Homo sapiens: one gene and its partners. The protein of the gene in region 1 interacts with the protein of each later gene in a biochemical or structural test. Each region holds a gene or a part of one and is shown on either strand. Other genes may lie near its edges. The genes, in order: NOTCH3, C1QL1, PPIA and SNX19.

What was found.
Region 2: the proteins of NOTCH3 (region 1) and C1QL1 form a complex in vitro, tested with the Homo sapiens proteins (one study listed by BioGRID).
Region 3: the proteins of NOTCH3 (region 1) and PPIA form a complex in vitro, tested with the Homo sapiens proteins (one study listed by BioGRID).
Region 4: the proteins of NOTCH3 (region 1) and SNX19 form a complex in vitro, tested with the Homo sapiens proteins (one study listed by BioGRID).

The regions. Positions count from the first base shown.
Region 1 is NC_000019.10:15,176,750-15,184,038, reverse strand, and holds part of NOTCH3 (neurogenic locus notch homolog protein 3 precursor), read left to right. Parts: intron 1-2,237; coding exon 2,238-2,463; intron 2,464-2,876; coding exon 2,877-3,078; intron 3,079-3,210; coding exon 3,211-3,358; intron 3,359-3,782; coding exon 3,783-3,967; intron 3,968-4,542; coding exon 4,543-4,675; intron 4,676-4,688; exon of another isoform or gene 4,689-4,756; coding exon 4,757-5,014; intron 5,015-5,097; coding exon 5,098-5,216; intron 5,217-5,948; coding exon 5,949-6,514; intron 6,515-7,289. UniProt on the Homo sapiens protein: Functions as a receptor for membrane-bound ligands Jagged1, Jagged2 and Delta1 to regulate cell-fate determination.
Region 2 is NC_000017.11:44,965,283-44,973,136, reverse strand, and holds the start of C1QL1 (C1q-related factor precursor), read left to right. Parts: upstream 1-4,833; 5' UTR 4,834-5,088; coding exon 5,089-5,685; intron 5,686-7,854. UniProt on the Homo sapiens protein: May regulate the number of excitatory synapses that are formed on hippocampus neurons. Has no effect on inhibitory synapses.
Region 3 is NC_000007.14:44,792,055-44,799,773, reverse strand, and holds the start of PPIA (peptidyl-prolyl cis-trans isomerase A), read right to left. Parts: upstream 3,094-7,719; 5' UTR 3,050-3,093; coding exon 2,981-3,049; intron 2,656-2,980; exon of another isoform or gene 2,153-2,655; intron 1,027-2,152; exon of another isoform or gene 870-1,026; intron 528-869; coding exon 497-527; intron 383-496; coding exon 294-382; intron 73-293; coding exon 1-72. UniProt on the Homo sapiens protein: Catalyzes the cis-trans isomerization of proline imidic peptide bonds in oligopeptides.
Region 4 is NC_000011.10:130,865,699-130,871,717, reverse strand, and holds the end of SNX19 (sorting nexin-19), read left to right. Parts: 3' UTR 1-5,468; downstream 5,469-6,019. UniProt on the Homo sapiens protein: Plays a role in intracellular vesicle trafficking and exocytosis. May play a role in maintaining insulin-containing dense core vesicles in pancreatic beta-cells and in preventing their degradation. May play a role in insulin secretion.

The DNA of each region.
Region 1 (7,289 bases):
TGAGACAGAGTCTTAGCTCTGTCGCTGGAGTGCAGTGTTGCAATCATCGCTCACTGCAACCTCTGCCTTCTGGGCTCAAGCACCTCAGCCTCCCCAGTGGCTGCGACTATAGGCGCACACCACAGCGCCCAGCTAATATTTTGTGTTTTTTGTAGAGACGGAGTTTCGCCATGTTGCCCACGGTGGTCTCCAATTCCTGGGCTCAAGCAATCTACCTGTCTCCACCTCCCAAAGTGCTGGGATTACAGGCGTGAGCAACCACACCCGACCTAAGTGCACTGTCTTTGAGAGCAATCGAGTTAATATCATGTGCAAAGTATGAGATAAAAGGCCCCCCAGAGGCCGGGCGAGGTGGCTCACACCTGTAATCTCAGCACTTTGGGAGGCCAAGGTGGGCGGATCACCTGAGGTCAGGAGTTTGAGACCAGCCTGGCCAACATGGAGAAACCCCATCTCTACTAAAAATACAAAATTAGCAGGGCATGGTGGCGCATGCCTGTAATCCCAGCTACTTGGGAGGCTGAGGCAGGAGAATCACTTGAACCTTGGAGGTGGAGATTACGGTGAGCTGAGATTGTGTCATTGTACTGCAGCCTGGGCAACAAGGCATAACTCCGTCTCAAAAACGAACAAACAAACAAACAAACAAACAAAAAGGGGTGCTGCCAAACAGATAAATAACACAAGCCACATATGCAATTTTAAATTTTCTAGTAGCCACATTAAAAAATAAACAGAAATGGGAGATATTAAATTTAATATTTTATATTTATTTATTTATTATGTATTCAGAGTGAGGCTCTGTCGCCCAGGCTGGAGTGCAGTGGTGCGATCTTGGCTCAGTGCAGTCTCGAACTCCTGGGCTGAGGCATTCCTCCTGTCTTAACCTCCTGAGTAGCTAGGATTACAGGCACTCACTACATGCCTAGCTAATATTTTTATTTTAATTCTGTAGAGATGGGGTCTCACTGCGTTGTCTAGGCTGGTCTCAAACTCCTGGCCTCAAGCCATCCTCCTGCCTTGGACTCTCAGACTGCTGCCACTGTGCCTGACCAAATTTAATATATTTAAATTTAATTTATTGAATGTATATAATCGGCTGGGCGCAGTGGCTCACACCGGTAATCCCAGCACTTTGGGAGGCTGAGGCAGGTGGATCACCTGAGGTCAGAAGTTTGAGACCAGCCTGACCAACATGGAGAAGCCCCGTCTCTACTAAAAACACAAAATTAGCTGGGCGTGGTGGCACATGCCTGTAATCTCAGCTACTCAGGAGGCTGAGGTAGGAGAATCACTTGAACCCGGGAGGCGGAGGTTGTGGTGAGCTGAGATCGTGCCATTGCACTCCAGCCTGGGCAACAAGAGCGAAACCCCATCTCAAAAAAAATAAAAATAAAAATAAAAGTAAATAAATAAATAAATAAATAAATGTATATAATCTATTTAACCCAATATATTAACATATCATTTCAACATGTAACCAGTATAAAATTGTTAATGAGATATTTTACATTGTTTCCTTTTTTTTTTTTGAGACAAGTTCTCACTCTGTCGCCCAGACTGGAGTGCAGTGGTGCGATCATGACTCACTGCAGCCTTGACCTCCCAGGCTCAAGTGATCCTCCCGTCTCAGCCTCCCCACTAGCTGGGACTACAGGTGTGCACCATCATGCCCAGCTAATTTTTGTATTTTTTATAGAAATGGGGTCTTGCCATGTTGCCCAGGTTGGTCTCGAACTCCTGAGCTCAAGTGATCTGCCCACCTCGGCCTCCCAAAGTGCTGGGATTACAAGTGTGTGCCACCACGCCCAGCCTATTTTTTTTTTCATACCAAGTCTTCAAAATCTGAAACCCAGTATGTATTTTACATTTATAGCACATCTCCATTTAGTCACAATTTCAAGGACTCAGTAGCCACATGTGGCTAATGGCCACTGTCCTTGTCCTGTTCCAAGCACAGGAATTAGATCAGGCACAATTAGCAGCGTTTGCTTGGCAGCTTAAAGGGACCTTTTGGTTTTCCCAACATCCTGCCCTTGCCACATAGGTGAGGTTTCCAGATAAAGGAGGGGACGAGGCCACAGAAGGGGATGGATTTAGATTCCTCTGACCAAATGCACCCCATCCCAGTTGAACCTGGTTTCCTCCTGAATTCTTCTCAATCCAAGGCATATCCCAGTCAGACTGGGCTAATGGGGGCAAGGTAGGTGACCAGACCGCCTTCCTCCTGTCCGCAGACCCATGCCTGAACGGTGGCTCGTGCCAAGACGGCGTGGGCTCCTTTTCCTGCTCCTGCCTCCCTGGTTTCGCCGGCCCACGATGCGCCCGCGATGTGGATGAGTGCCTGAGCAACCCCTGCGGCCCGGGCACCTGTACCGACCACGTGGCCTCCTTCACCTGCACCTGCCCGCCAGGCTACGGAGGCTTCCACTGCGAACAGGACCTGCCCGACTGCAGCCCCAGGTGGGCGGGGCCTCTGCTTGGAGAGCAGGGACTCTGGCTTGGGATGGGGCCTGGGACCTGGGACGAAGTGGGGACAGCAACGACTTGGGGGAGTCCTCAGCTTGGTACCCACTGCGGACTCTGATGACTGATGGGGCAGGGCCAGGGAAGGAGCAGGGCGTCTGTTTGGAGCTCACCTTGGAGTCTCTGGTGCCTGAGAGGGCATGGCTTCCAGGTGGCTCTCACCTTAGGGCTGAAGTCCCTGGTGAATTGGAGCTAAGGGACCTGATTGGCTTCTGCTGGGGCTGCAGCTTCTTGCCGAGATAAGGGTCAGGGAGTGGGACGTCCCCAGCGCTAACAGCGGGACTCAGGAAGGAGGGCAGGGCCTGTGAGGGGGCGGAGCCTGATCCTCCCTCCCACTCCTTCCGCTCCAGCTCCTGCTTCAATGGCGGGACCTGTGTGGACGGCGTGAACTCGTTCAGCTGCCTGTGCCGTCCCGGCTACACAGGAGCCCACTGCCAACATGAGGCAGACCCCTGCCTCTCGCGGCCCTGCCTACACGGGGGCGTCTGCAGCGCCGCCCACCCTGGCTTCCGCTGCACCTGCCTCGAGAGCTTCACGGGCCCGCAGTGCCAGGTGGGTGGAGTTACTGGGGACCTGGGGGAGGAGCCTGCCTGGGATCCTAGGAGGGAGAAGCCAAGTCGGGGCACAGTTTCTCCCAGACTACCCCCCACCCCACAGTACTGACTCTGAGTGCTTCCCCTCCAGACGCTGGTGGATTGGTGCAGCCGCCAGCCTTGTCAAAACGGGGGTCGCTGCGTCCAGACTGGGGCCTATTGCCTTTGTCCCCCTGGATGGAGCGGACGCCTCTGTGACATCCGAAGCTTGCCCTGCAGGGAGGCCGCAGCCCAGATCGGTGAGTGGGAGCATGTGGGCGGGCGTGTGGGGCCTTGGGAAGGGGCTCATGCACGTACCTCCTGCTAGTGTGAGCCGAATGGGGGTGCCACAGAGCCTATGGGGCATGATGGGGTGTGTGGCTGAGTGGTGTGGGTGTGTGAGCATGTGACAACTGGCCGGGATGGTGTGTGTCTGTCACTGTGAGACAGCAGGGATGGTGTGTGTGCTACAGGGTGTGACCGAGCTGCTGTGAGCGTTGAAGGCATGTGTGTGTATGTCAGTGATGAGACCTTGCCTGCTGGGGGGATGTGTGACAACCTGATGGAGTGTGGGTGCGATCCTGGGGACTCATTCCACCAAGGATGTTGAATGATCTGTGTGATGGAGGCAGAAGGGGGATGTATGGGGTTACCTCTGTTCCTGTGCCACTCTCCTCTTTGCAGGGGTGCGGCTGGAGCAGCTGTGTCAGGCGGGTGGGCAGTGTGTGGATGAAGACAGCTCCCACTACTGCGTGTGCCCAGAGGGCCGTACTGGTAGCCACTGTGAGCAGGAGGTGGACCCCTGCTTGGCCCAGCCCTGCCAGCATGGGGGGACCTGCCGTGGCTATATGGGGGGCTACATGTGTGAGGTAAGGGGGCGCTCCCCAGGAGAGGGAAGAGGAGGTGGGCATGCTTGGGTGCGTCTGGGCACACATTTCTGTGTGGCTTGGTATGGGTATGTCTCTAGATATGTCTGAGTTTTTGCTTTTGTGACTCTTGGTGTATCTGTGGGTGTCACTCTGGGTAGATCTGGGGTGTTTTTTTATTTGTTTGTTTTTTTGAGACAGGTTCTCACTCTGTCACCCAGACGAGTGCAGTGGCGCGATCTCAGCTCACTGCAACCTTTGCCTCCTGGGTTCAGGTGATTCTTCTGCTTCAGCCTCTCATTATAGCTGGGAGTACAGGCACCCACCACCACGCCCAGCTAATTTTTGTATTTTTCATAGTGACAGGGTTTCACCATGTTGGCCAGGCTGGTCTCGAACTCCTGATCTCAGGTGATCTGCCCACCTCGGCCTCCCAAAGTGCTGGGATTACCTACTGGTAGTGCGCTGAACATCTGTGTGTGTCCTTTTGTGCTGGGGTTCTTTGCGTCTTCATGGGTATGTCCAGGTGGGTCTGTGTCCCACTAAGCTGAGTGGGTCCCTCTCTTACCCCACTGAAGTGTCTTCCTGGCTACAATGGTGATAACTGTGAGGACGACGTGGACGAGTGTGCCTCCCAGCCCTGCCAGCACGGGGGTTCATGCATTGACCTCGTGGCCCGCTATCTCTGCTCCTGTCCCCCAGGAACGCTGGGTATGCCAGGGCCAGGGTTGGGGGGACAGGATGAGAGGCTGTCTTCATTCCCTCTTGACCACCCCTCGTTTCTTCCCCCAGGGGTGCTCTGCGAGATTAATGAGGATGACTGCGGCCCAGGCCCACCGCTGGACTCAGGGCCCCGGTGCCTACACAATGGCACCTGCGTGGACCTGGTGGGTGGTTTCCGCTGCACCTGTCCCCCAGGATACACTGGTTTGCGCTGCGAGGCAGACATCAATGAGTGTCGCTCAGGTGCCTGCCACGCGGCACACACCCGGGACTGCCTGCAGGACCCAGGCGGAGGTTTCCGTTGCCTTTGTCATGCTGGCTTCTCAGGTAAGCGTTGGCGAAGGGGCTGGCCTGGGACCCCGCCTGTCATTCCCCCATTGTGGCTGATCTACATGCTCCCGCTCGCTCAGGTCCTCGCTGTCAGACTGTCCTGTCTCCCTGCGAGTCCCAGCCATGCCAGCATGGAGGCCAGTGCCGTCCTAGCCCGGGTCCTGGGGGTGGGCTGACCTTCACCTGTCACTGTGCCCAGGTAGGTGTGGGTGGCGGCCTTTGGAGGAGGAGTAGGGGCGTGGCCTCTGGAGTAGTAGGGGCGTGGCGTCTAGGAGGAGGATGTGGCTTTAGGGGAGACATCGAAGGGAAGGGAGTTTCTGGAAAATGCTGACATTTCCGCCGGGTGTGGTAGCTCACACCTGTAATCCCAGCACATTGGGAGGCCGAGGCGGGAGGATCACTTGAGGCCAGGAGTTAGAGACCAGCCTGGGCAACATGGTGAAACCCCGTCTCTACTAAAAATATAAAAATTAGCCGGGCGTAGTGGCAGCTGCCTGTAATCCCAGCTACTCGGGAGGCTGAGGCAGGAGAATCACTTGAACCCGGGAGGCGGAGGTTGCAGTGAGCCATCACGCCATTGCACTCCAGCCTGGCGACTGAGTGACACTCCGTCTCAAAAAACAAAGAAACAACCCCCTGCCCCGACATTTCCTGGAGGTTTGAAGGGAAAAGGGTGAGGATGGTGATTGGGGGGCGTGGCCTCCTGGGATGGCAGGGCTTATCTGCCAGGTGGGGTCTCCAGTGTGGAAAGGGGAGCGGTTGGGTGGGACATGGGGAGGTTGAGGGGGTCTCAACCTTCCTTAGTCTTGACCTCTTCTCTTCCCCCTCTCTCCCCTTGACTCTTCTTTTCCCCACTCCTCCATTTCTTCTCCTCCTTCCCTCCACTCCCCACCCTCATTTTTATCCCTCCCTCCCCAAACCCGACCCCCAGCCGTTCTGGGGTCCGCGTTGCGAGCGGGTGGCGCGCTCCTGCCGGGAGCTGCAGTGCCCGGTGGGCGTCCCATGCCAGCAGACGCCCCGCGGGCCGCGCTGCGCCTGCCCCCCAGGGTTGTCGGGACCCTCCTGCCGCAGCTTCCCGGGGTCGCCGCCGGGGGCCAGCAACGCCAGCTGCGCGGCCGCCCCCTGTCTCCACGGGGGCTCCTGCCGCCCCGCGCCGCTCGCGCCCTTCTTCCGCTGCGCTTGCGCGCAGGGCTGGACCGGGCCGCGCTGCGAGGCGCCCGCCGCGGCACCCGAGGTCTCGGAGGAGCCGCGGTGCCCGCGCGCCGCCTGCCAGGCCAAGCGCGGGGACCAGCGCTGCGACCGCGAGTGCAACAGCCCAGGCTGCGGCTGGGACGGCGGCGACTGCTCGCTGAGCGTGGGCGACCCCTGGCGGCAATGCGAGGCGCTGCAGTGCTGGCGCCTCTTCAACAACAGCCGCTGCGACCCCGCCTGCAGCTCGCCCGCCTGCCTCTACGACAACTTCGACTGCCACGCCGGTGGCCGCGAGCGCACTTGCAAGTGAGCCCATCCACCCGATCGATCCGTCTGTCTATGCATCCATCCCAGTCTGTTTGTCCGTGGGCCCTGCCTCTCTTTCCACCTGCCCATCCACTTGCCCCGTCTGTTTCTCTGTGCACTCTATCTGCCCATCGGTGTGTCCCACGTGTCTGTCCGTGTGTCTGTTCATCCATGTGCTCTGTCTATCTTGTTCTTGTTTCTATCTGCCTATGCACTTCTCTGCCCCGTTTGTCTGCCCTTTTCTCCATCCAATAATTACTTTTTTTTTTTTTTCCCGAGATGGAGTCTTGCTCTGTGGCCCAGGCTAGAGTGCAGTGGCGCGATCTCGGCTCACTGCAACCTCTGCCTCCCGGGTTTAAGCAGTACTCCTGCCTCAGCCTCTGGAGTAGCTGGGATTACAGGTGTGAGCCACCGTGCCCAGCCGAATTCCTTTTTTTTTTTTTTTTTTTTTTTAAGACGGAGTCTCGCTCTCTTGCCCAGACTGGAGTGCAATGGCTCCATCTTGGCTCACTGCAACCTCCGCCTCCCGGGTTCAAGCGATTCTCCTGCCTCAGCCTTCCGAGTAGCTGGGACTACAGGTACCTGCCACCACGCCTGGCTTTTTTTTTGTATTTTTAGTAGAGACAGGGTTTCACCATATTGGCCAGGCTGCTCACGAACTCCTGACCTTGTGATCCGCCCGCCTTGGCCTCCCAAAGTGCTGGGATTACAGGTGTGAGCCACCGCACCTGGCTCCTTTTTTTTTTTTTTTTTTTTTTTTTTAAGACAGGGTCTT
Region 2 (7,854 bases), on another chromosome or scaffold:
TGGACTTCGTAACACCTCCTACAAATTTCTACCCAAGCCTTAGATTCCTCAGCCATAAAATGGGGAAAATGATAGTACCTACCTCATGAGGTTAATACTAGTACGTGACATAAGCCATGTAATAGTTTTAAATCCATGATAATAGGTTAAGTGTAAATGAGATAATCCATAAAAGTGCTTAAGAACAGGATCTTGGCCAGGCGCGGTGGCTCATGCCTGTAATCCTAGCACTTTGGGAGGCCTATTGGGGGTGGATCACAAGGTCAGGAGATCGAGACCATCCTGGCTAACATAGTGAAACCCTGTTTCCACTAAAAATACAAAAAACTTAGCCAGGCATAGTGGCAGGCACCTGTAGTCCCAGCTACTCCGGAGGCCGAGGCAGGAGAATGGCGTGAACCCAGGAGGCAGAGCTTGCGGTCAGCCGAGATCGCACCACGGCACTCCAGCCTGGGCGACAGAGAGAGAATCCATCTAAGAAAAAAAAAAAGAACAGGATCTTGCACTTTGTAAGTGCTCAAAAACTGTTAGCTATGGTAATTATTGTGGCAAAGTATCCTATCTTTCTGCACGTGTCCCCCACCAAACAGTGAACTCCTCAGGGGCACCGCTCAGCCTTCCGGTCCTACTCATCTTGGGACACACCATCACCACCTAGCTAGGTGTTTTCACCCAGGCAGGACCTAGCTAGCTGTTTTCAGTAAATGTAAAAACAACTCAATGCAGATCCAGCAGCTGATGAGTCAGGGCACAGCACCCCCCTTCCTCACTCCCAAACCCAGACACACAGCAACATCAACAGCCTCTTACACATTCACACCCACTCACATTCATTCAAAGAACCCCAAAATACCACAGAACAGTCACTCAGTTCCTAAAGTCAGTGCCAGTCATGCCTGGGTAAAAAGCCTTACCTACGCTCTTCCCTGTACCTTCCACAATCTACCTCAATGCCTGGAATGACTGGGGCTGTCGGCACCACCCCCTCACTGTAGGAGTTCCTATGGTAGGGTCATTCCAGATGGGGGCTGTGGGAGTGACCCCTCACACTCATAGAAGTTCGGGAAGCAAAGTTAGACCTTCAGCCCCCCACTGACAGCATCCCAGCTACAGAGAGTGCAGCCGCCCTCCTTACCTTGAAACCCTCCCTCCCTTTTCGCTTCTGAAAACCTGAGTCCTGGCCCCGGCTGGGCAAGCTGGCTCAAGCCTGTAATCCCAGCAGGAAGCCCAGGCAGGCAGATCACCTGAGCTCAGGAGTTTGAGACCAGCCTGGCCAACATGGTGAAACCATGTCTGTACTAAAAATACAAAAATTAGCTGGGCATGGTGGCACGTGCCTGTAATCTCAGCTCTTCGGGAGGCTGAGGCAGAAGAATGGCTGGAACCTGGGAGGCGGAGTTGGGGTGAGCCGAGATCGCACGGTTGCACTCCAGCCTGGGCAACAAGGGCGAAACTCAGTCTCAAAAAAAAAAAAAAGAAAGAAAGAAAAAAAAGAAAACCTGAGTCCTTGTTCTTAGCAGGTGGTTGAAGAAGAGGCCTGGAAGCCGGAACTTCAGGGTTCTTCCCTCACTCATCCAGTTCCATCTCTGAACCTGGGAGCCTAGGTCCATTGTCCCCCTCTCCTAGTGTCAAGGACAGCAATGGGTAGGAAGCTGGCAGGACCAAGTAGACCCAAGGCCCGGGGGTCTCCTGAGAGGGCTTTCTTGGCCTTGAGGTGAAATAGTTATATTAGCTACCATTTACGAGGTGTATAATAAGGGTCAGATACTGAGCCCAGGACTTTACATACGTAATACATCATTTAATCCTCACAACCACCCTTTTACCAAAGGATGCCAGGGGCTGCTGGGTAGGCTATTTACCTAAAATCACCGGGTAGGATTGGCACGCAAGCCGTTTTAGTTTTTGTTCTTAATGAGACAGGGTCTTGCTCTGTCGCCCAGGCTGGAGTGCAGTGGCGCAATCTCAGCTTATTGCAGCCTCGACCTCCCAGGCTCAAGCGATCCTCCCGCCTCAGCCTCCTGAGTAGCTGGGACTACAGGTAAAAGCCACAACGCCAGGATCTCCCTATGCTGCCCAGGCTTGTTCGGAACTCCTGAGCTCAAGCGATCCTCGGGCCTCAACCTCCCAGAGTGCTGGGATTACAGACGTGAGCCACCGCGCCCGGCTGGCACTCAGGTCTTTAATTTCAGAATCTTCAACAGTCCAGCTTTAAACAATGTTGGGGGGCAGTATGGCGGATGGGGGGGTTGTGACTGTCTTCAGGTGTTAAGCTGGGAGATGCCCCTCAAGGCAGCACTCTCTCCCCAATCAGCCAAGCCCTCATCTCCCGGAAAGAGGGGCGCTGAGAGCAGGGGATGGGGGTGGAGGGTCGGGTAGGTGGTTAAGGGGTGCTTCTTTGGGGGCCTGGGCGGAGCCAGGGCGGGGCTTGGCGAGCCCAGGGGAGGCGCCAAGCCGGTGGCCCCAGCTCACAGGCCAAGATGGCTGTTAATTAAAGTGCTGGCACCAGCTCCTCTCTGCAAAGTTTGAAGCCGTTATTTTCCACTCCAGCGAAGCGGGGAGAATCCGGCTGGGCTGACGGAGACGCCACACCGCGCCAGGGGAGCAGGAGCTTTTTCGGAGCGGGAGGCGGGGCGCCGTGTGGCTGCGAGCGCGCCTCTTGGATGCCCCGGCCGGCGCGGGGGTGGGTGGGCGCTCCCGCCCCATCCTTGGCCCCGGGCGGCCAGCCGCGGTGTGCCCGGAGGGCTCTGCGAGGGCTGTGGGTGGCGGGCGAGCCCCAGCGGCGTAGCAGAGGAGGGGCCCCCGAGCGAGCGTACTAGGGAGAAGGGGGTCCGTGCAAATCCCAGGCTGACGACCGCGCACGCGCCCCTCGGGTCACCAGCCCTGTCGCTCTTGGTGGGGCACACCGAGGAGACCGCCGTGGGGAACCGGGGACCGGATTGCCTGACAGCCGAGCGCTGAAGACTACTCTTCCTGAGCCTAGGGAGGTCTGGCTGCCCTGAGCCCCCTACCCCTGGGCTTTGGGCAGTAAACGGTACCTAGAGACTCTATCGCGCTGAGGTTGGAAGAGCCTGGAGCCAGGCTACGAGTTTGAGTCCCGGCTCTCCCACTTATTAGTTGTGTGACTTTAAGCAAATCTCTTAACTTCCCAGAGCCTCAGTTCTCCATCTGTAAAATTAAAATAATCTTGGATTTTACTTCTTTGGACTGATGTGAAGATCAAGGGTGATCATGTATGTAAAACATTCAACACAGGGCCTAGCACAGAGTAAACCCTGAATAAATGCTACTTATTGAAAATTTTTTAGCTCCCTCCTTGGTGGTGGTGGGGTCACTCCAACCTGGCCTCAGCCATTAGTGCTTGGAGGGTCCTCTTTCACAGCCCCCTCGTTGGATGTCCCTGTGTCCTTCTACTCCCAGCCCTGGATGAGGTGAGCGACCTCAACCTTGGGTAGGGAAGGCCAGGGAATCATTTTGCCCATGGTGAAGGGTCAACAGGGAGAGTGTGAGCCGGCGGGGGGTAGCTCTCGGGAGAGGAGAGGCTGGGATGTCATTCTTTAGCAGCCGGCCAGTCGCCTCCGAATGGCTGAATCCTCCCCGGTGGGCCGGATAAAGGAGGGCGAAGGAGGAGCGGTGGAGCAGCCCGACCTGGGCCTCAGATAATGTGACAAATATTTTGATGGAAGCAGACACGTTTCGGTTTATGCAACCTAAACACTTTGCTGCACTTGAGGAAGAGGAGAGCCTCCCACAGCCTGATGGGGAGAAGAGTTAGGGGGCGGCGGAGGAGGCTGGGGAGTGAGGGAGGAGGAGCTGAGGGGCTGGATGAGATCCACCCCTCATCCTGGAGGCTGGAAAAGGGGGTTACCCCTCAGGGACGTATTTGCATCTGTCAGCATGGAGAAATAACGTGGGGGTGCCCACCTTTTTAGGATCCCCTTTTCTCCCTGGTCTAGAGGCAGAAGTAAAGGGATTGAGCAGAGGGAGATGGAAGAAAAGGGCCCAGGAAAAAGCAGCCTGGCCACAGTTCGGTGAGGAAGGGGCAGAGGCGAGGAGGGGTTGGAAGCTCCTGCCCCACCTCGGGGGAGACGGGTCCCGGAACAGTCAGATCCAGAAAGGAGGAGGCGGCTGCCGTCTGGCTCCGCTGGGCCCCCGGACAGGCATTCATCCGATATCTGGATCTCCCAGACGGGTGGTCTGCGAGGCCTGAGTGCCAAATGGTCCCCTCCGTATCCTCTTCTTCGCTTCATAACCCCCTTTCTCATCCTACCTTCCAGCTCCCCGCTCCGTCCTCCCCTCAATCGCTCTTTGTCCCCTGCAGACCTGGGCGCTATCCCCTCGCTTCCGCCCCCTGCGGGTCTTGGCCCGTCGCGACCCCAGTCCCTCTGTTTTCCTGGTGACCGACCCTCGAAGCCTCTCCTCTCCCGATCCCCTCGGAGCTCTCTAGCTCTCCCTGTGGCCCTCTCTCCCTTTCGCATTTTGGTCCCTACTCTCCCCTTCCCTTGGAGCGCCTCTCGGGTCTCTCGGACCCCGGCCCCCACCCCATTTCCGAATCTCGGTCTCCGCGTACTCAGTCTCTTCTTTCCTCTCCCTGCTCCCGCCCGGGGTCTCCGCGGCCCCGCCCCCTTATGCCCCGCCCACCTCGAGGCGCCCGCGGCCCAATTAGGCGCCGGCCCCGCCCGCAGCCCCACCCCTAGAGAGCCCAGAGCCGCGCGGAGCTGGCGGGGCGGGGCCCGGCCGAGGGGGCGGTGGCCCGGCTCAAGGAGGCGGGAGGAGTCAGGCGGGAGGCTGCAGGCGGGAGGCGGGAGGCGGGAGGCGGCGGCCGCGGCGCTCAGTCCGGCAGCGCAGCAGGAGGGAGGCGCGAGGCAGGAGCCGGCGGCTGGGCTCCGCAGCGCAGCCAGCGCAGCGCGGCGCCCCGGGCCCGGCCCCATGCCCGCAGCCCCGCCGGACCGTCCTTGAGCGCGGGCGCCTAGCCCGCGCCCCCTGCCCGCCGGCACCATTGCCCCGACGGCGCGGCCGGGCGGCCCGGCGCTCCCCAGGCTCCGCGCGGGCCGAAAGACGCTGCTAGCGGCCGCCGCGGGTGTGGTGATGCTGCTGGTGCTGGTGGTGCTCATCCCCGTGCTGGTGAGCTCGGGCGGCCCGGAAGGCCACTATGAGATGCTGGGCACCTGCCGCATGGTGTGCGACCCCTACCCCGCGCGGGGCCCCGGCGCCGGCGCGCGGACCGACGGCGGCGACGCCCTGAGCGAGCAGAGCGGCGCGCCCCCGCCTTCCACGCTGGTGCAGGGCCCCCAGGGGAAGCCGGGCCGCACCGGCAAGCCCGGCCCTCCGGGGCCTCCCGGGGACCCAGGTCCTCCCGGCCCTGTGGGGCCGCCGGGGGAGAAGGGTGAGCCAGGCAAGCCGGGCCCTCCGGGGCTGCCGGGCGCGGGGGGCAGCGGCGCCATCAGCACTGCCACCTACACCACGGTGCCGCGCGTGGCCTTCTACGCCGGCCTCAAGAACCCCCACGAGGGTTACGAGGTACTCAAGTTTGACGACGTGGTCACCAACCTAGGCAACAACTACGACGCGGCCAGCGGCAAGTTTACGTGCAACATTCCCGGCACCTACTTTTTCACCTACCATGTCCTCATGCGCGGCGGCGACGGCACCAGTATGTGGGCAGACCTCTGCAAGAATGGCCAGGTGGGCCAGGCGGGGGCATGGGGCTGGGCTGGGCCCAGGGCACCCAGGGAGCCCGGGGCAAATGGGTACCTGATCGGAGTTGGCGGGGGCGCCAGGCGGACGCAGGTGGAGATCCCACCCCACAGCGGCCCCGCTTGGTCATCACGTGTGGGGATGGTCGGAGCCAGCGGACATCGCCGATCCTCAGTTCCTGGGTTCCCGCTCCAAGACAGACGCTGCTGGGCACCGTCTGGAACGCTACTGGAAATGCGGGAAATGAACCCAACTAGTCAGAGCGCAGGGCTCCCAGGTGCACGGACTTGCCCTTGGGGGCTTGCCCCTTGGGAAGTGGATTCGGGCCGACAGCAGTGGGCGATAAGGGGAGGGCAAGGATGGGCTCTGGCGTATGGAACAGGGAGAAGCAGCATCCGCGCCCGCGGGCGCCTAGGCGCGTGGCCATGGGCGCGAGCGGAGAAGGCTGGCTGCAGGAAATGTTTGGGGCACAAAGGCAAAGGGAGCCCGGTGCTTACAGCCCTGGCTGCAGTGCCTCCCCTGCCCTGGAGAAGGGACCATTGGGCGAATCTGACACCCTTTGCAAAATCCGGGAGTTGGGGAGCTGTTTCCCACTGTAGCAGAGCTTCCCCAAAAAGAAGGCAGTCTGGGGGGCGGGGGAGTTTTTCCTCCTGAGGCGGGGAGGGGGTGGGGGGTGGGGGGTGGTGGAAGAGATGGAAACTCCCCCTCCTCTTGGTCTCCCAGCTCCAGCCCCTCCTGACTCTGGAGTGTGTGGGGTCCTCTCCATTCTCCGTCCCCATCTCAGACGCTGCAGCTGGAAAGCACTGAGTGTGTCGGGGACTCTGGTACCGGGACTCGCATGTGCGTGTAGCTCTCCTTGGAATGGCCGACCCCAGGACCAGCCTCCACCCAGCCCCGCCCTGGGGTGACAATTTTAGCCAGCTCTCTTGATACCACCTCCCTTCCCAGTGCTCTCACTCGTGGTGGCCTGTGACCTGGGGGTGTGGTCAGGCTGAGCATTCTCTTCGAAGAAGGGGACCACTGGTCAGAACTAAAGCTGAGCTAGTGGAAGTTGAGAAGGAATCTCTCACGATTAAGATACAAGACCTTGTTGGAACCCTTCCCACAGCAGCACTGCCCTGAGGCTCTGCCAGCCTGCGGGTCTGCAAGTCTTAGGGGCAGAGACAGGGGCAGGCAGGGAAAGTGAGCAGATAGCCTGCCAGGTGCTTATAAGTCAGCCCTTCTTCTCTTTCCTCTGCCTGGCTGCTGCCCCGCCAACACCTTTTCTCTGGTTTCTGCCTCTCCCCTGCCTCTTTCTTCTATTTTGCTGTTTCTTGTCCATCTCTCTCCTGTGTCTGCCTTTTCCATCTCTCCCTGGGTTTCTGGCCTCTCCTCCCCGGATCTAACCCCACTCTTCTCTATTCCTTGTATGTCTCTCTTTCCCACGTGTGTCTATCAGACATCCCCGTGTCTCTCCTCTTTGTCCTTGGTTCCTGACCAAATGGGAGGCCCCAGTATCCAGCAAAGGCTCATTCTGCAGACAGCCCCATGATTCCCCCTATTAATCACCAATAAGGGATGCAGCAATGTCACCTTCATCAATGGAATGTCTTCCTTTCCCAAAGAAGTTTGGGCTGACACAGAGCTGAGGTTTCAGGGGATTGGCAGCTTGCCTGGATAGGGAGGCAGTCATTGGGCCACAGGTTGGCCCTAGACCCTGCACCACCTCAGGAAGTCCCAGCAGGTCCCCAGAGATGAGGCAACAAGAGGCCCCGGAGATGCTATGTGCTTAGAATGGGGAACTTGCTTCAGTCACTGGGAGGTAAAACCATCTCAAAAGCTCCTTTTCCCTCCAGCAGGGGCAGGGTGTTGACAGAGTCTGATGAAGGGGTGCTCACTGGAGATGGGACCACAGGCTAGTAGGAAAAAAGGAGGTGGCTTTAACTAGGGGTTTCAAAGGCCCAGCACTTTAATAGTTATTCAGACCAGCCCCCTCAAAAGAAAAACAGGAGAGGCTGGGCCTGGTGGCTCACGTCTGTAATCCCAGCACTTTGGGAGGCTGAGGCAGATGGATCAACTGAGGTCAGGGGTTTGAGATCATCCTGGCCAACACAGCGAAACACCATCTCTATTAAAAATACAAACATTAGGCCAGGCACGGTGGCTCACGCCTGTAAT
Region 3 (7,719 bases), on another chromosome or scaffold:
GTTCTCATCTTCAAATTTCTCCCCATAGATGGACTTGCCACCAGTGCCATTATGGCGTGTGAAGTCACCACCCTGTCAACATATAGGAAAAATGTCACTTCTGACAACATAACCATGAAGTGTGCCAAATCTGCAAGGTTCAAACTTTAAACCCAAGTTCAAACTGAATAGAAGGGTTAAATAGAACCGAAATGGTAGAGTAACAGTTCAGATATGTGTATCCTGAAATATTCTGGCTCAATCCCAAATGAAGGGAGCAACCCAAATAAAATAAAATTCAGTAAATTTCGTACCTGACACATAAACCCTGGAATAATTCTGTGAAAGCAGGAACCCTTATAACCAAATCCTTTCTCTCCAGTGCTCAGAGCACGAAAATTTTCTGTTTAAAAAAAAATTAAACACATATATACATACATAAAAATATATATATACACACACACACACAAACTGTCACAATTGGAACATCTTTGTTAAACTTAGAAAATGGACCAACCTGCTGTCTTTGGGACCTTGTCTGCAAACAGCTGTAAGAGAAAATTACAGTTAATTAACATCTGCTTATTTTGTTGCTTAGTACCCATGTCTTTAGGGGCTTCTGAGTCATAAATTCATTTTCTCACTAGAATACTTCTTCAGTAATTACTTTAATTCCCAAGAACTGCTCCTGACAGCCATAAGGCCCTGCAGGCAGTTGGGTTAAGAAACATGAAACCCAAAGACATGCCAAAAATCCAATACTAGTCATAACTTAAATAGTGAGACTTCTAGAAAGTGTCTCAAACTTTTAGTACATCACACCTACTTCTGAAAAGATATATGGCTTCTTAAATGTCTATCACCACCCCCCAACTTGAGCTAGAACTTACAAGGCAAAATTCTAAGGAACAGCAAGCACTGCTGCACGATCAGGGGTAAACAGCTGTTCTTTTAGTCACTTGTAATGAAAATGCTACTACCTCCAATCTGTTAACATAGCTTTATGGATTAGATGAGCAGTCACTTCTTGGTATCCAGGCCCCTTACCTAGTAGTGGGGTAAAAAATAAAGATTGGTTTCTAGTATATCTGGTTTTGAACCTTTCTTGAATGTATAATACGTTATGGCTAGAGAGGTAGCTTAAATACCATAAACATTTACAAGCCCTTTCATAAAAACAGCTTGTTTAAAAGTAGCATTTTATAAGCTATTTCACAGATGTGACTGAATTAACTACTAGTATCCGTGTGCACTTCTCTTATAGCAATGTACTTTTTTTTTTTTGAGACAAGAGTCTCACTGTCACCAGGCTGGAGTGCAGTGGCACGATCTCGGCTCACTGCAGCCTCCGCCTCCGGGGTTCAAGCGATTCTCCTGCCTCAGCCTCTAGAGTAGCTGAGATTACAGGCAAGCGCCACCACGCCCAGCTAATTTTTGTATTTTTAATAGAGGTGGGGTTTCACCATGTTGGCCAGGACGGTCTCAATCTCCTGACTTCGTGATCCGCCCGCCTGGCCAACGTACTTATTTTTTAGTTTTTAGGTATTTGTACCTAGAATGTATGGTCTTTCTAAAACATCAGCTTTTCTCAGAGCTTTATAGTCGGTACGTTTAAGTTCCTATGGCTTCCCTTTCAGACTTTCGCTAAAGCCAAAGCCCTCATTGGCAGTTACCCCTCCATTCTCATCAAGACCTGCAAGTCCTTTCTCATTTCCCTGAAGCTCTTTGGGTAACCTGATGCCCAACATTAGGTCAGGCCAAGTTTCCACGAAAGCCCTTGTCACTTACCAGCTTTGACTACACTCATAGGTGGGGTGGGGTGTGGATTAACATGCAGTGTTTCAGTGCCTATGTGCCAGGCACTATGGACAGGGTAGGCAACAAGGAAATCGCTCTGTCCTCACGAAGACTGCATGAGGATCAATCTATTTTCGGAATAAGATCCCAAACTAGCCATTGGTGGCCTTTTGAGATGTGATTTAAAGGAATAAAACCACTAACATCCTATTTCGCTACTCCCTAAGGTCTATCCATGTTAACTGGAACGGAATCGTACTCAATATTTAACTTTGAAGACACGCGCCAAGTTTAGATACTATGCTATAATTACAACTGATCTTTAAGAACTCATTTAACGCTCTCAAAACTAATTAGGTAATCACTGGTAATCCACCTTGGTCGGAAGAGGCCTGCCTTGTGGCCAGTCGCAACTTGCTTGCTAGGCAGAGGGACAATCGGGAGGGGCTCAAGAGCGCCTCCCCCGCCAGCGCCGTCACTGCAGTGGAAGGCGGTCCTTGGGCACCAGCAAAGGCAAGGCCCATTTTCACATTTCCGCTTGGGGGTGGGGGACACGGAGGGACGTTTGGGGCACATGTATAAATATTCCTACTTTATCCAAATGGAAGATATTTCAAGTGGCAACCCGTCACATCCCAGCAAGTCTCCTTTTATAACATGGCCTCCCGGGATCTACAGGACCGAGCATGGACGGGCTCACACCGCGCCTCGATCCTTGAGAAAAACCCTCAAGCAAACAGCTTCCCAGCTCAGGATGTAAAGCACCCATGCCTGCCAGGGGACAGCTTCCCAGGAAGGCGGTCGCAAGCCCCCGCGAGCGTGCTTCTGGCTCCGGTCTGCGGCGCCCAGGCCAAGCTAGGGCGGAGCCCAACGACTCTCAAGGCGCGGACCTGAGCGCGGCCGCCGAGCACGTGCGTCGGACAGGACAGGGCGCGGCCACATGAGGCGGGCGGGCGGACGCGGGCCCCCTCCCCCAACGGCCTCGCAGCCGCCCCGCCTGCCTTTGTCCGCCGCCGTCCCGGCCTCCTCCCCGCGACTCGCGGACCTCCCAAAATGGCCCCTCGTCAGGAAATGGCGCCGCAGCCCGCCCGCGCTCGCCCCTCAAGCAGGGTCGCCCCGCGCCCGGGCCTTTGGGGCGCTACCACCCACCCCGACCCCGGCCCACTTTCTGGGCCCCATTCCCGCACGCCGCCGCCCGCCCGACCTCAAAGGAGACGCGGCCCAAGGGCTCGCCGTCGACGGCAATGTCGAAGAACACGGTGGGGTTGACCATGGCTAATAGTACACGGTTTTCCTCGGCGGTGGCGTCTGCAAAACGGCACGAGCCTGGCCTCCCGCCCCTTTTATACCACGTTCGGCCCCGCCCGCAACCCGGTCTCGCGCCTCCGTCCCGGCCAATCGGGTCTGCGACTTCGCCAGAGTGACAGTGCATCTGGCCTATAGACGGAAGCCGGCGCTGATGGGGACGACACATGAGGCGCGCGTGCGCGCTAACGCGCGGAGGCAGGTTCCCGCCTGCGGGCTCCGTCGCGGTGGCTGCGGCATGGGACTCGGGGCGGGGCGGCAGTACGGGACGCGGGGCACGGGGGAGGGTCAGTGCGGAACGGGGGTGGGCAGCATGGCGCGCGCACGCGGGAGACGGAAGCGCGGCGGCTCTTCGGCCGTTGTCAAGCGATGAGGCGCGTCTCCCCATTGCACAGAGGGGGCAACTGAGGCGAACGCAGGCCTCAAGGTCGCGCCGCCAGTCAAGGTCGACTGGGGTCCCGCGCCCGGACCCTACGCCTCCGCGAGCGGAAATGGGGATGGCGCGTCCCCGAGACCTAGGAGCAGCCTTGCGTCCGCATTCCGCGCGGGCAAACACCACGTCGCGTCCTACCAGGCAATGTCAGGAAGGAGGTTGCCTTTGAGCATCGCTGTTTTCTCTAACGAGGTGGGACAGGAGCAGTCTCCGGTTTTGAGAGATTATGAAATGCTTTCAAAATGCTCTACTTTCCGAAAATATCTTACACTCTGCTTGAATCTTCTTCAGGAGGAAGCCATTAAAACAGGAGCCTGGCCAGGCTCTTACCTGTGAAGATGCATTATGCACATTTTGCCCTCTTACTCTTTTTGAATCTCTGCTCCTGGTCTTTCCCTGCCCCCGCCCCGCCCAGCTCCTACCGCCCCCGCCTCGGGGCTGAATTGTGCTTTGATTTTTGGGTGAAAGATAAGTCACAATTTAAAAGCGAATTTCTTCAGGCAAAGACATTAATAATACTTTAATTAAAATGCACTTGTAGGCCAGGCGCGGTGGCTCATACCTGGCGCTTTAGGAGGCGCGGAGGCCAAGGCCGGGGAGGATCGCTTCATCTTAGGAGTTCGACACCGGCCACCAGCCTGGGCATCTTAGAGAGACGCCGTCTCTACAAAAAAATAAATAAAAATAAAAATTAGCTGGGCGTCGAGGCGCTCGCTACTCAGGAGGCTGGGCGGGGAGGATTGCTTGAGCCCGGAGGTCGAGGCTGTAGTGGGCGGTGATCGCATCACTGCATTCCAGCCGGGACGACAGAGTGTGACCCTCTCTCAAAAAATAGGCCGGGTGCGGTGGATCACGCCTGTAATTCCAGCACTTTGGGAGGCCGAGGCGGGAGGATCACCTGAGGTCAGGAGTTCAAGACCAGCCTGGACAACATGGTGAAACCCCATCTCTACGAAAAATACAAAATTAGCTGGGCATGGTGGTGCGCACCTGTAGTCCCAGCTACCCCCTCGGGAGGCTGAGGCAGGAGAATCGCTGGAACCCAGGAGGTGGAGGTTGCAGCGAGCAGAGATGGCGCCACTGCACTCCAGCCTGAGAGACAGAGACTCCGTCTCAAATAAATAAACAAAAATATAAAATAAAATGCACTTATGTGACTGGTGTTTTGTTAAGAAAACCTTACAAGGGAATTCATATATCCTGGGCTGTCACTTAAGTTGCAATATTAAGGATATTATTTAATGTTTCTTTTTGTTTTTTTGAGACAAGGTCTCACTCTCACCTAGGCTGGAAGTGCAGTGGTGTGTTATCGGCTCACTGCAACCTCCCCTTCCCGTGCTCGAGCAAGCGTCCCACCTTAGCCTCCCAAGTAGCTGGGACTACAGGCATGCACCCACACCCAGCTCATTTTGTGTGTGTGTGTTTTGTAAAGATGGGGTTTCGCCACATCGCCCAGGCTGGTCTCAAACTCCTGGACTCAAGCGATCCACCCGCCTCAGCCTCCCAAAAGTGCTGGGATTATAGGCGTGAGCTGCTGCACCTGGACGTTGTTTAATGTTTCTAAAACTCAGTTTCTTCATCTGCACAACCAGGATAGGGTTGTGGTGAGACAAAAATGATAATTCATCTGATAGATGAAGTACAGTTTCTGGCCTCTTGCCATTGTTAATAACCATGAGCCAACGTGTTAGGAATTTATTTATTTGAGATAGGGTCTCACTCTGTTGGTTAGTCTGGAGTGCAGTGGTGCAATCCTAGCTCACTGTAACCTCGAACTCTTGGACTGAAGCATTCCTCCCTCCTCAACCTCCCAAATGTCTGGGACTAAAGGCACAAGCCACTGTGCCAGCTAATTTAAATTTTTTTAACAGAAACTGGTTCTGGCTGTGTTATCAGGGCTGGTCTCAAACTCCAGGGCTTAAAGGATTCTCCCACCTTGGCCTCCCAAAGTTCTAGCATTACAGGTGAACCGCCATGCTCAGCCTGTGTTGGAAATTTAGACTATGTTGTTTTGTTCTCATCACCATCCCATTATCCCCATTTTACAGATGCGTAAAGTAAAGCTCTGGCTTCTTGTTCAGAGTAATCGCTTATGAGTGTTAGCAAAGCCAAACTGGAAACTGCTTTTTTCCCCCCCACTCCACATCACTTCTTGCTTTGTGATCTTAAGAAAGCCACTTGTCCTCATCTGACACTGAAAAAAAATGCCCAAGGCCTTCAGGCATAAATTCTTACCATTTCTCTCTCCATCCTAAAACGTAGAGCAGTTAGGAACTCCTCCAAAGAAGTAAATGAATGAGGCCGGGTGAGGTGGCTCATGCCTGTAATCCTAGCACTTTGGGAGGCAGAGGCGGGTGGATAATTTGAGGTCAGGAGTTCAAGACCAGCTTGGACAACATAGTGAAACCCTATCTCTACTAAAAATACAAAAATTAACTGGGCAGGGCTGGGCATGGTGGCTCACACTGTAATTGCAGCACTTCGGGAGGCCGAGGTAAGTGGGTCACTTGAGGCCAGGAGTTCAAGACTAGCCTGGCCAACACAGGGAAAACCCATCTCTACTAAAAAGTACAAAAATTAGGGCTGGGCACAGTGGCTCACGCCTGTAATCCCAGCACTTTGGGAGACTGAGGTGAGTGGATCATGAGGTCAGGAGTTCAAGACCAGCCTGACAAATATGGTGAAACCCCGTCTCTACTAAAAATACAAAAGTTAGCCGGGCATGGTGGTGCGCATCTGTAATCCCAGCTACTCAGGAAGCTGAGGCAGGAGAATCACTTAAGCTTGGGAGACGGAGGTTGCAGTGAGCTGAGATCACACCACTGCACTCCAGTCTGGGGGATGGGGTGAGATTCCATCTCAAAAAAAAAAAAGTAAATGAATGCATGAATGAATAATAAATAGGCTGGGCGTGGTGGCTCACGCCTGTAATGCCAGTGCTTTGGGAGGCCAAGGCAGGAGGATCGGTTGAGCCCAGGAGTTCAACACCAGCCTGGGCAACAGAGGGAAACCCTGCTTCTACAAAAAAATATGTATTTTCTTTTATTTTTTATTTTTATTTGTTTGAGACAGAGTTTCGCTCTTGACGGAGTGCAATGGCTTGATCTCGGCTCACTGCAACCTCCGCCTCCTGGGTTCAAGCAATTCTCCTGCCTCAGCCTTACAAGTAGCTGGGATTACAGGCATGCGCCATCACTCCCGGCTAATTTTGTATTTTTAGTAGAGATGGGGTTTCTCGTGTTGGTCAGGCTGGTCTTAAGCTCCCAACCTCAGGTGATCCACCCACTTCGGCCTCCCAAAGTGCTGGGATTACAGGTGTGAGCCACCATGCCCGGCCTATTTTATTTTTATTTATTTATTTATTTATTTATTTATTTATTTTTTGAGACAGAGTGAGTTTTACTCTTGAAGCCCAGGCTGGAGGTCAATGAATGGCGTGATCTTGGCTCACTGCAACCTCCACGTCCTGGCTTCAAGCAATTCTCCTGCCTCAGCCTCCCAAGTAGCTGGGATTACAGGCATGCACCACCATGCCCAGCTAATTTTATATTTTTAGTAGAGATGGGATTCATCATGTTGGTCAGGCTGGTCTCGAACTCCTGACCTCAGGTGATCCGCCTGCCTCAGCCTCCCAAAGTGCTGGGATTACAGGCATGAACCACTGTGCCCGGTCAAAACATTTTTAAAAATAAAAATTAGCCAAGCACGGTGGTGCATACCTATAGTCCCAGCTACTCGGGAGGCTGAGATGGGAGGATCACTTGAGCCCAGGAGGTTGAGGCTGCAGTGAGCCATGATGGTGCCACTACACTCCAGCCTGGGTAACAGAGCAAGACCCTGTCTCAAAAATAAAAATAAAAATAAAAATAAATACATCCGGCTGGGTACAGTGGCTCATACCTGTAATCCCAGAACTTTGGGAGGCCGAGGCAGGTGGATCACTTGAGGTCAGGAGTTCAAGACCAGCCTGGCCAACATGGCGAAACCCCGTCTCTACTAAAAATACAAATATTAGCCTGGTATGGTGGTGGGCTCCTGTAGTCCCAGCTGCTCAGGAGGCTAAGGCAGGGGAATCGCTTGAACCTGGGAGGTGGAGGTTGTAGTGAGCCAAGATCGAGCCACTGCACTCCAGCGTGGGTGACAGACTGAGACTTCGTCTCAAAACAAATAAATGAATACATCCTTGTGACTTGTCCTCCCTCTCG
Region 4 (6,019 bases), on another chromosome or scaffold:
TAAAGATGTAGCTAGATAAACACAGAACTCCCTGATTGCAGACAAAAGGACTCAAATGTCGACAGAAGCAATGGCTTGTTTATACTGTGTTGAACTGGATTTGGTGACTTGTGAGCATAGGTAATCAGCCCTTTTGCCCGTGCCCCTGGGTGAAGAATCATCCTGCTCCTGTAACTATCAAAAAGATTAACCATGAACGTTGATATGAAATACTGCTTTTCATACCTTGACACCAAGAAGAATAGACCTTATTAAGGGAGGAAAAACACTTTTGGAGTTTACCTCCTTTACACATCCTGCTTGCATGGAATCCAAATTCAGTGAGCTGACGGCAGGCCAGTTCCTTGCCACTTTATGCAGTTGTGTTTAAAGTTTACCCTCTGTTATCTATAAATGCAAGTGGCTTTTTCAAGAATAGTGAGGGCAGCTTTCATTAAGGACTCATGCATCTCTAGGAGAATCACATGGGCTTAGTTGGCAGTAGAGCATTTTCTTGGGGACAGAATGTATTATAGATGGTTTAGGCAGGAGGTTAGACGAGAAACTTCCAAAAAAATCTAGGGATTTTTTATTCTGCCCAAACCAGCATGTTCCTTCCTGCTTTCATTTTTTTGTTCATGTCCTTCCTTCCACGTGGTAGATTACCTTCTCTTCTCCAGCTGGGCAAGTAGGCTACCTCTGCCCATAAGGACCAATTCAAGTTCCATTTTCAAGAAGCACTGTCTGATTGCACCAGCCAAAACTCTTCCCACTTTCTTTTCAGTTATTTACACTGCCTCTCTAGTCAATGTGCATGTATATGAAGTCCTCAGTAAGAGACTATAATTCTTCAAGGGCAACGAACATATCTTTTATCTTTTTTAGTCCTATTATGTCCTTATGCCCCCCCCCCAACTATATGTATATACCTAGTGCATGATAGGTACAAAATAAATATTAAAGTTTACTTAATTAAAGATTATGTTTATTTAAGAGGCAAAATTTGTGAATAAGTCTGGATCTTGATACTGTTACTTTCATTTTGTTGATTCCTTTCTCCCAACCTTCCACATCCCAGAGACAGGGTGCTGGTGACTTTTATGGAAAGGCTTGAAGGGTGAAGATATGTGGAGAAACCACCGTAAACCTCTTTGAGATTAACCACTTATTCCAGTGGAGGGCACTGGCTAGTCTGTACCAGACCTGCCCCAGACAGCTTTGTACATCTTGCGTGTGGGTGGGAACCCAAAAAGTTTCCTTTTCAGTGGATCTGTTTAGGTGAGGTAAAGAAATCCATTACTCAAATGTTTCATCAGAGGCTACCCCCTGTTCAGGTGTGCACCCTGCACCCATGTGGGTTTGCGGATGGCATATAACACTTGCAGCAGCAGAGCTCGTTGCCACACATCCAAGGGAAGTAAGTGTGCATATGTGGATGCGGCGGGAATACCTGCGGTCTTTCTGCTGAAGAGCAGGGTTATACACCTCCTTTTAGCAATCTGGAGAGGACTGAGGCAAGAGCTTGTATTGAAACACAAGCAAGCTCCACGTATGGTTTTGGACATGGAAGAAAGAGTACTGTTGGGGTGGAATGACCTAAGTTTTTAATAGGATTAGGATTTCTGTGGATTTTTCCCAAGTGATAGAAGTTTTCTTCATCTAGCAGGGAGCCTCACCCAATTGCTTCTCTATGTTCATTTCTGAAACTCCTTTGTTAAAACTAAATAGCAACAGAGAAGAAACTTTCTTCAAAAAACTCTTCATATCTGTCATTTCTCCTATTCTTATGGAACTTCACAATTGCTTTTTCTTTATTCCTTTTTTTTTTTCTATATCAGCTCATCAGTCTTTGTGGGTGACTTGGCTACCCCACTAATCTAATTGCCTTTTTGATAGTTAAATCAATATGGACATCAACTTAAGGCTATATGTGAACCTTAAATGCATGATATTCCCTATACTTGATTCCACAATTGATATTCTGTGAGGAAAGTTGGCCAGATATTCCCTTCTGTGAAGTCAGAATAACTACCGACCCTAAGAATAAACATTTTGACCAATTCTTTATATGTTGCAAACTATTCACACAACTAGAAAGTTTAGCCATTCACATCTCTTCCCCTGATTTTAAGTCCCAGATTCTGAGACTCAGAAAGTTTAGTGACTTGTTGAGCTTTCTGTGGAAAATCTGTTGTAAAAACAGTTCAGACATTGGAAAATATAAAATAGCCCCTAGAGATCCCAATAAAGCTTCCTCTCCCCAAATCCCTCTACAAGTTTATCCTCGAAAAACTTTCTGAAAACTGATGAGAAAATACTGAGTAATTAATGCTCAAATGGGAAAGATGACATGTAAAAGCAAAAACCTGTTAATGGCATCTGTTCATATAGTTCCATGTGCCTTTTTACTTAACTGCACTGATAGGCAATGTAATGAAGAAGTTTCCTTTTAAAACGTAAAATGTAATTAAACAGAGTTTATCTTAAATTGGCTGGACCCGCACAGCTTGACTGAGACATACACAGCTGTCTTCATTTTGAAGCACCTACACTAGTCAAGCTTCTTTCTAACCCGCCCTTAGGGTTTGCCTGTTGGTCTGTCTTCCCTACTGGGCTGTTAATCCCTTGGAGGCAGATTGTCTTGTTTCCCAGAGTTTTTCCAGCATATACCATGGCAGACAATTTTCACCTTATCTATTCTAACTCGTAAGCCTCAGCTAGTGCCTCCATCCTCGGGTGCATAGCCCAGTGACAGGCATGTAACAGACTTTGCCTACAAGCAGTTGCTGATCCATAAATGACGTTGGCAACCTTCTTGTGGCAGTGAGTAACATATTTCTTTCCTCCTGATAGGCTTGGAATCCTCATCCCCATCTGGCAATTTTCTTTCCATCTTTCCTACACTCACAATGGAGCCCACACGCCTCACAACCCCCTTGACTAAACCAGATGACAGCAAGAATGCCTAGTTCCAAGTGAGCAAGGGTGAAGCCTTAGGCCCTTGTCTCCTCCAGACCTCCTCTCTGCTCTAAGAGTATACTGGGCATGGGGTGTGGTCGGGGGGTTGGGGGCGGAGGAGTACTTAACCTCAAACTGAGAAAAAGGGTGTCCTGAGCAAGTTTCATAGCGTAGCAGCTTCCATTTGAAATGTGAAGCTTTGAAGGCCTGTTGCTACAGTAACCAGCTAGCTCCTGACTCCAATGCCTGTCTAATCTAAGGTGGAAATGTCCCAGAAACAGACCCCAGGCTGGCAGCTCTTAACTATGACCCATCTCATAAGCACATATCCAGCTGTAGCCTCTTGGTTGCTGGGGTGAAGGGGCCTCTGTATCGCCACAGGAAAAAAAATCTGATAAATTACGGGCTCAAGAAGGGTGTTGCTTTTTTTTCCACTAACAGACTTTGCAACCCAGTTCCTGGTGAAAGGGCTCCGCACCCACCCGTTTTGTGTGTATAATGCTGAGCTAAAGTGGGAAGGAGCAGTAACACCAAAGGAGGCTAATTCTCTTCCTGTCAGTAGGAGAGAGTGTCTGCCCCCAGTGTGTGAAAAGGGAAGGCATGAGAAGTGAAAAATCAGCCTTCTGGAAGCACCTTCTTACCACGAGAAAACAGGTGATTCTTACTATCTTTGAGACTCATCCAGATTGTGTCTGTTTAACTCTTCAGGCAATATGAAGGCAGAGAAGCCATTTCAGAGAAGAGATTTTTTAAAAAATCATTTCGTTCTTTGGCATTGTCACAGGATTATGATGTGGGTTCTCATAAAAATTTCACTCCCCCCAAAGCCACCCAAAGGAAAGGCAGTGAAATGGGGAGGAACACACATTTGCCTGGCATCGCAAGAGCTGCCTTGTAGTCATGGGTTCCAGTGATCTTGGACCGATCTCTTCACTTCCCTGGACCTCAGTTTCTTCCATACAAAGAAGTTGAACTGGATCATAGAAAAGATGCTGTCCAGCTTGGTAATATCAGATAGGGAGCAGAAGCTGTCTCTTAGCACATGGCCAGATTCCGGAACAACGATGATGGTCTCCATGTTTGTCCTAAAAATGCATCTCATCTCAGTAGAGATTTTCTTCCACCTCATTTGGGTCTCAATTTAAGGAAGGAAGAAAGGAAAGAAACCCGGGGATTCTCTTCTTGAAAGGAATATACTTCACTTTCTCTAGGCTTCTAGGATAAAAACTTCCTATCCTTCATTTTTCCTCTTTAAACCTGCCAAAATCAAGTTGAGTAAAGATACCATACAGATATGAAAAAGAAGCCACATCCTTAAATTTTCATGGAGTCCAAGAGCCTGCTCACCGCCAGTTAGCTTTTCCCAGGATGGTGGTGGCACTGATCATCTAGGTTGCACTTTTATGTTCATGTCCCAGAGCGTTTCCCATCAGCCATCTCATTTCATCTTTTCATCATTCCTCTGAGGAAAAGACTTCACACATGTATAGGACTTTCTATATCACAAAGTATTTCATATCCAATGTCTTATTTAGATCTTGACAATCACTGTTTAAGGTAATTTGGCAAGTTATTAATACTCATGTCCTCATTTTACTGAAGAGGAAACTGAAATGCAGAGAGCTTGTCTTTTGCCCAGGATCACTCACCCAGTTTATTGGGAGGCAGCAGCACGGGGATTAAGAACATGGGTTATGCCGACAACCAACCAGGCAGAATTCCAGCTCTGTCAGTAGTTAGCTGTCTGGCCTTAGGAAAGGGATTTCACACCTCTGTGGCTTAGTTTCCTTGTCCATTAAATGCTCATAAGAATAGAGCTTTCCTCACAGAGATTGGGTGGGCACGGGAGCTAAATGAGCTCATACGTTTAAGAACAACCTCTAGCACACAGTGCATAATAAATGTCATTATTATTAGCAAAGCCAGGACCTGGGTCTTCCAGCTTCTAGCTCAGTGGCATTTCTGCTGCCCCACACCAGGACTATCCTTCGTATACAGGTATGAACCTAAAGCCTTCAGTGTTTCAATGAAAAGTTCACCCAAGGTCTTTCTGTTCAGTAAGTCTAGAGCTAAGGGCTCCTGGCACTCTGTTCAGTCCTTTCGCTGGTAAACCACGCTGCCCTCCGTTGCTCTGGGCAGAATGTCAAACCTTCTTATGTTTTTAAAATTTATAAATCAAGCACTCTTATTTAATATTACTGACAGCCCGAAGGCAGACGCTCCCACTCTCCTGGGGAAGAGGGTCTTCTAATCTGCCATCTTAAGGAGGTAAAAGGGCTTGATTGGGTAACTCATTGCAATGGGCACGTATTTATTACTGTCTCCCGGCCTTTTCTCATGCTGTTTGTCTGCTGGAATTACCACTAGTGCCAGGCCATTTGAATATTTGACCATTTGTCTTAGAATTCTCTGAATACAAATGTTTTTCATACCTTTACTATGTACTTTTTAAGAATGAAGACTATGTTGCATGTTGGTTTGTACTCTCTCCTGCACATAAAAAATGCTTAGTAAATAGATACACAAATGTTTCTTGATTCCTAAATTGATTGACTGTTCGGGGAACTAATGGTCACTTCTAAGTGGTTGACAGTTGTCTCTTCCCACCTCTTAGTCGCAAGTTTCAGATGATCAAAGAATGCCTAGGTGGCATTCAACAGTATATGCCTCCGTAAAGGTAGAAGGTTTAGGAGTCGTATGTGCAAGAGTGGAAGAAGTTCTCCCTGCACACACAGGAGGCCATCTGCTACAAAGCCTCAGAACCTGGCCTCTGCCCTGTCAGCCTGCATGCTGCGTGCATGGAAAAACAGGCCTGAGCCAGGGCTTACCCTGTCACCCAAAGTCCACTCCATGTAGTATGCCCGAAGCAAACATGACCTTGTTCTACAGTTAAAAACAAATGAAAGTCATCTGCCGGGGTCACTTGGTAATAAAGTCCTGCGACAGAAGGGGCTCTGCTTAAAGGGCAGCTCAGATCCAGGCATTAAAATAACCTAAATGGTGTCGTTTTCTGATCAAATTCCTTTCCCTGTCGGGTTTGTGATTTTTGAGCCTGAGAATGTCCCTCGCGGCTCAGGTTTCT